2 separate regions of the Homo sapiens genome follow, and region 1 is linked to region 2. The links come from fine-mapping of genetic effects on gene expression. Tissue or cell type: skeletal muscle. Region 2 holds a variant in brackets; the other region holds the start of a gene. All regions are shown on one strand. Distances are from middle to middle.

Region 1 (2,751 bases), 61 kb before region 2:
GCTTCTCTTCGTAAGGGGATCCTTGGAAAGACAAATATCCCGTAGCTTGGCACAAATGATCCATTTGCTCAATCATCTCAGATCCAATCACTGTTTGAAACACAGTATTTGACTTCCAAGTAAAACACACACGTGCGCACACACACACACACTTTTTGTGAGTTTTATTAAAAATTAACAATGTCCCTGGCAATTAAGCTTGCAGAATTTCCTTGTCCTTGTTTCCCTCCAGTGAATTTGGGACTTGCAAACTCCATGCTGATGGGAGGACCCAGCCAGGGGTAGAAATCAGCCCTGACTCTCTGGGTGGACAGGGGCCTGACTGCCCCCACCTCACCCCAACTGACTTGTAGAGAGGGCTTGTGTGATGGGGAACGGGGACAGCATGTGTCAGAGCGAGCTTTCTGAAGAAGGGGTTTCCATCTAGCAGTGGAAGTGTCCTGGGGGCAGAGGAGAGGATTCCATGCAGGAGCCACAGAAGTGGGTACAGGGGAAAGCCCCTGGCTGGCAGGGGTGTAGGGGGAGGTAAAGAAGAGACTAAAGCAAGGACAGGGTAAGTGGAGAGAGGAGGGCTCCCAGTGTCTGCCCTGTCCATCTAGGGAGCCTGGATTCTGATAGCCAGGGAGGGGTTTTGAGAATGAGAAACCAAGCAGCCCAGTGGTTGATTACCTGGTTCTCACTGTGTGTGACTCTGGGCACGCTGCTTAAGCTCTCTGAGCCCTGGTGTCCTCATTTACAACACAGGGATGATAACAGAACTCCGTTGGAGGGTGCTTGGCAGGGCTGAATCGGATGACTGGGCGAAAAGCCAGCGGTGGCACACCTTGCACTCTGCGTAAAGGGGCGCCTATTATCACCTTGGGGAAGAACTGGACAGAGCGCCTGGCGGCGGGTGATTCAGTTGGGTAGGTGGGTCAAATTGACCGGATTTTCCAACCCAGATTCACACTTCCTGTCGAGACGGTCGTAAAATAGCTGGCGAAGGTGTTTGTAAACAAAAGTGCATTCAAAGGTTGCCGCTGGGGGTGAAAACAGCGGGGGTTAGGGGAAAGAGGCTCTGTGGCTGGAAGCATTCACTTAGCCCGGGGCACTGTCCCAGCCCAGAGGATATGGATGTCTTTGCAGTCCCTCCTCCCTTTCCCACCTCCCCCGGTACACACACACGCACACACACACACACACACACACACAGCCGGAGTCCCCTCCCGCAGCAACCCCAGGACACGCGTGGTACAGCCCTTGCTGTCGTCCCGTCGATGGGTTTAGGGATGAAGGGTGAGAGCGGGTCGGCGACTGGGAGTGGAGGCGATAATGGGCAGAGTTGGATTAAATTGTCTCCAGCAGCTCCGAAGGCAAAGCATGGGGCAGGGGCGGACACACCGCGGCCTGGAGGGCGCTGGGCGCGGAGGAACGGAGCTCGGGGGCCGGGCCGGCGCTCGGCCAGCAGCGCCGCCTCCCCGGAGGAAGGCGGGGGCCGGGAGGAGGGAGCGGGAGAAGGCGGAGGGCGGAGGAGGGCGGTGCGCTGAGAGGTTATTTGTGGTTCGCTTTGATCCCGAGGGGGAACCTGAAACTCTCACATTCCTGGCATAGCAGCCGCCTCCGGCGCGGGCCGACCCTGGGGCTGCGCGCTGGGGCGCGAACAGCCAGAGCGTCGGCGCCACGGCCGAGAACACATCTTCGCCGCCGAGCTGAGCTGGGCCGAGCCGGAGGTTGTGGTGTCTGACTGCGCTGGGCACCCTCGGGCCGCAGCGGTAAGGAAGGCCGCTCGGCGCTCGGGAGAGCGCGCGAGGCCACAGAAACGTGCCCCAGCCAAAGCTGGAGTCTCGGCGCAACCCGGCCTTTTCCGGGAGTCGGAGCCTCGAGGATCGAGCGTCCTCGGGGCGCAGTGCGCCCTTTCGAGGCAGCCGCAGTGCCTGGCAAGGGCCGCTCTGCCCAGGGAGCGCAGCGCGCTGGGCTTTGCGGGGCTCTAGAAACGCGCGGGTCTCTTGGGGCTGGGGGAGAGGGGAGAGGGCCGACTCCGGAGACAACAGCCACAGTGTTTCGGGTTGCAGGTCGGCGGGGGTGGGGGTGGCGGGGGACAGGGATGGAGGCGCCGCTTGGAGCTCAAGTTGCAGGGTCCTGCGGGCTGATTTGGTTAGGTGGGGGTTACAGGTGCCTTTGCCCCCAACTAGTCCAAGAATTCCTCTTTGTCTTCCTTGGAAAATCCTCTCTGGAGCCACGAATTGGCCCTCACTTAGAAAGAATGCAGCCTGCTGTCCAGCCCGGTGACGTCAGCGTTAGAGTATTTGGAAAACAAAGAGGGCTCGAGAGGGAGGGAGGCGGACCCGCGATGCTTAAAGACCTCTCCGGGCCTCGGGCTACCCTCACCGGCTCGCCCCAGGCGTACCAGCGGCCACCGGTGCTCCAGGTCCGCCCGGGCTCGTGGTGGGGCGGGAGCCCTGGCTGGGGTGCCAGAACCTCCTAGCTTGGAGACTGTCTTTGGTTCCTTAGGCGAGCAGGAGCCCAGGCCAAGGCTGGAGACGCGCGCTGGCTTAGAAAGGCGGCCTTCAGAGAGCGCAGCGGGCGAGTGCAGCAGAGGTTCGCGGCCGGGGGCGCGGAAGCAGGTTTTTGTAAAGGCCCAGGCGTTTGATGTCTGAAAGGACGTGAATCTGAGGGGCTTGGCCGGGACAAATTCGCGATGAGAGGCCTTGGAGATGTTCCTTGCTCCCAGTCCGGGCACACTATGGAGCGCCTGGAATCTGTCAGGAAGGC
Region 2 (2,751 bases):
TCTTCCCCTTGGGAAGGCCCCTCCGCAGGGATGAAGAGCTGGACAGCTGCCTTTTCGGAACCAGAAATCAGTACTACGAAGGGGAAGAGGAGTCAGTCAATCAGGCAAGGTGCTGAGAGACCAGCCAATGTACACAGAGCGCCTACTAGGTGCTAGGCCCCACACCAGATGCTTATGGGCATTATCTATCAGTCCCCACAATACTCCCACAGCAGCGTGCTGAGTCCTGATTCTCTTCTCACTCTTCACGGGCCACTGCTGTGCCTCTCGCAGAAGAGGGGCTCCATAGACCAACCAACATCATGAGTGGACTGAGATGGACACCCTGACCCTTACTGTGACTCAGCTGGGCCTTTGGCAGGCATGGGGAGAGGCCAGGAGCAGACTTATGCTCTGTTTGGGGGCCAATCGCAGCACAGGCTCTTCCTCTGCACATAAGGTTCCCTCTGTCTAAAATACTCTTCTCCCATCTTTTGGGCTGACTCCTACTGATCTTCCGTGTCACTCTGCAGCTTCTCCCAGGAAGCCCTCCTGGATCTCCACCCCCAATCTGTGTTATTCCTCGGTGTTCCCCCACACCCTGGGCTTCCCCCAACTCTCCCTCGGTGTTTCAGAGACTGTCTTGAGGATCAGAATGTCAGCCCCTCAAGGACAGGATGACTTCACCTCTGTGCCCCCAGAATTAATCTCAGGAACTGGCACGGAGCAGAGGCTCAGCAAATATTTGTTGAATGAGTTAAATGCTGTTAGGTATTCAGTCACTCCCTGGCCGATCAGAAAGCACCTAATCCTAAACTAGATTGTCCGCTTTCCCTCTTCTCTCCCCAGGTCTTGCCCTTCACAATGTGCCCCCTAAATGGGCACATTTTGGGATCTGAACCCTGTGCCCCTTGAGGCTGATGATGGAGAGGGGCACGTCCTATCTCCTCTTTGAGCTACTGGCCTGGCTTTCTCAGTGCCTCAGCGGACCACTGCGGGCTTCCCTCCTTTCCTCCAGCGCGACTGGTCTCGCCGCACCCCTGTCCGGTGCCTCCTGCGAGTCCCTCCTGGTCGCGGCCCTCGGGGCCCTGTCCTCCACCCGGACAGACGGACGTACCGGGGGCTTGGGGAGAGGGTGGCACAGAGCGGGCCGGCGTTCTCCAAGGAGAGGAGAACAAACTTGTGCGCTCAGAGCGCGCAGTGAACACCCTG[C/T]TCACATTCCTGCGCCGGCCGGAATGCCGGCCCGGGACCAGCCAAAGGCCGCATTCCTTGCGCCGCGGCCAGCTCGCAGCCCCGGCTCCTGCCCCGCCCCTGCCCGCCCCTACCCGCCCCCAAACCCGGCCCCGAGCCCTAGCCCTTGCGGGCGCCCCCCGGCGGCTGCCCCACTCCGCTCCCAGCCCGCCTTTTGGATCTGAGCGTCCCCTCTCCCTCTTCCCCGGGAAGCGTCCGGCTTCCCCACACTGCTGCTTCCATTTCTGCAGCCCCACTCCTCCATCGCTTTTAGTTTTGTTATTTGCTCCCAATGAAAACAGGTAAAAACCTTCCACGGCCCCTCAGAACCTTGGTGACAAACACCCCCGCCCCTGGGCGGCTTCATCTCCCGGGTTCCCCGCACCCCGCCTGGGCGCGGCCCTAGCCCTCTCTAACGCCCGCACCCCCTGGAGCTCCCGCCGGGGCTCCCGGCGCCTAGGGTCGGCTCCCACGCAGGCGCCTCGGGCCGGAGGCCCCGCTGCAGCCTGGGCCCTGCCCGCCTTGCCCAGAGGCTCTGCGGAGGGCTCAGGGAAGGAAACGCAGTCCGCCCCTGTCCCTGCGGCTCTGGGTTGGAAACTGTGAGAAAATGGGTCAAAGTGGGTCTGTAGGAGTGTCCACCCGCCCCGCCGGATAAAGCGCCGCTCCCCCGTAGTGAGGATCACGCTCTTGGGGAGAGTTGAGGCCCCAAGAAAGTCCATAACCACTGGGCTGGGGGTTTCCACGACGGTATAGAAACCACTCAGATCACACACATCAGCTGACACACACAGCTGCGCTCACGTGGAAACACCACGGAATCAAGTGAGCAAATGGACTTTTCCCTAAAGCCAGACCACAGGCCTGCGGAAGTCCCTGCCTTCCCGCAGGGACTCGAGGCGGGAGTGTGCGATGTGCGCTTGCCCCTGCAGGGGGCCTTGCCCAGATTCTTGGCCAGTGTGTGCTACCCAGGGCGGGCAAAGCATGGGCTTTCACCCATTTTCCCAGCTTGTTGACAGGGCGCTTTCTCAGTGGGAAAGGTGCCACGGCCTAACATCATTTGCGTGGGGAAATTTGCATGTTTATCAGCCCACAGACCTGTGAAGGACTCACCCTCTGGATGAAGTGACACCTGGGAACCCAGTAATGCAGCAAGGCATGCCTGGAACTTGCATTGCTCACCATCCGGAGCCGTGGTTTGTGCTGCCAGGAAAGGCGGGAAAACAGAACCCAGATTGTGATTGGCAGACTCCTGGCCTGGAGGAAGGGTGGGAAGTCAGGAGCGCTTCATGGGAGGCTGAGCCTGATGGCCGACTTGCCTTGCTTGGTTGGTTTCGTAACCTCTGAGAGCAGGAAAATAAAATGGCTCCTTTCCTACCTGGCAGGGGTGTGGCCTGCAATATCTGGAGGTAGGCCCAGAGTGCCCAGGTGGCAAGTGGCCATGCAGCCCTGATTTGAGGTTGTAGCCCTCGCTCAAGGTCTGTCTCTTCCCCATGACACAGAAGATGGACATTCTAGACATTTTACACCACCCTGGCAGTTCAT

What was found. PIP is the estimated chance that this variant, and not a neighbour inherited with it, causes the effect.
Region 1: it holds the start of AMOTL2, and the variant in region 2 is fine-mapped to the expression of AMOTL2 in skeletal muscle (GTEx, PIP above 0.99).

The regions. Positions count from the first base shown.
Region 1 is chr3:134,373,342-134,376,092 of GRCh38, reverse strand. It overlaps AMOTL2 (angiomotin like 2), which reads left to right and starts at 1,646. Exons shown (of 10, transcript NM_016201.4): 1 at 1,646-1,751. RefSeq lists enhancers at 1-786, 787-1,586, 1,587-2,386.
Region 2 is chr3:134,311,963-134,314,713 of GRCh38, reverse strand. It overlaps LINC02004 (long intergenic non-protein coding RNA 2004), which reads right to left and starts at 1,138. Exons shown (of 2, transcript NR_146711.1): 1 at 1,097-1,138. RefSeq lists an enhancer at 426-999. The variant C/T (reference allele first, on the strand shown) is at 1,192.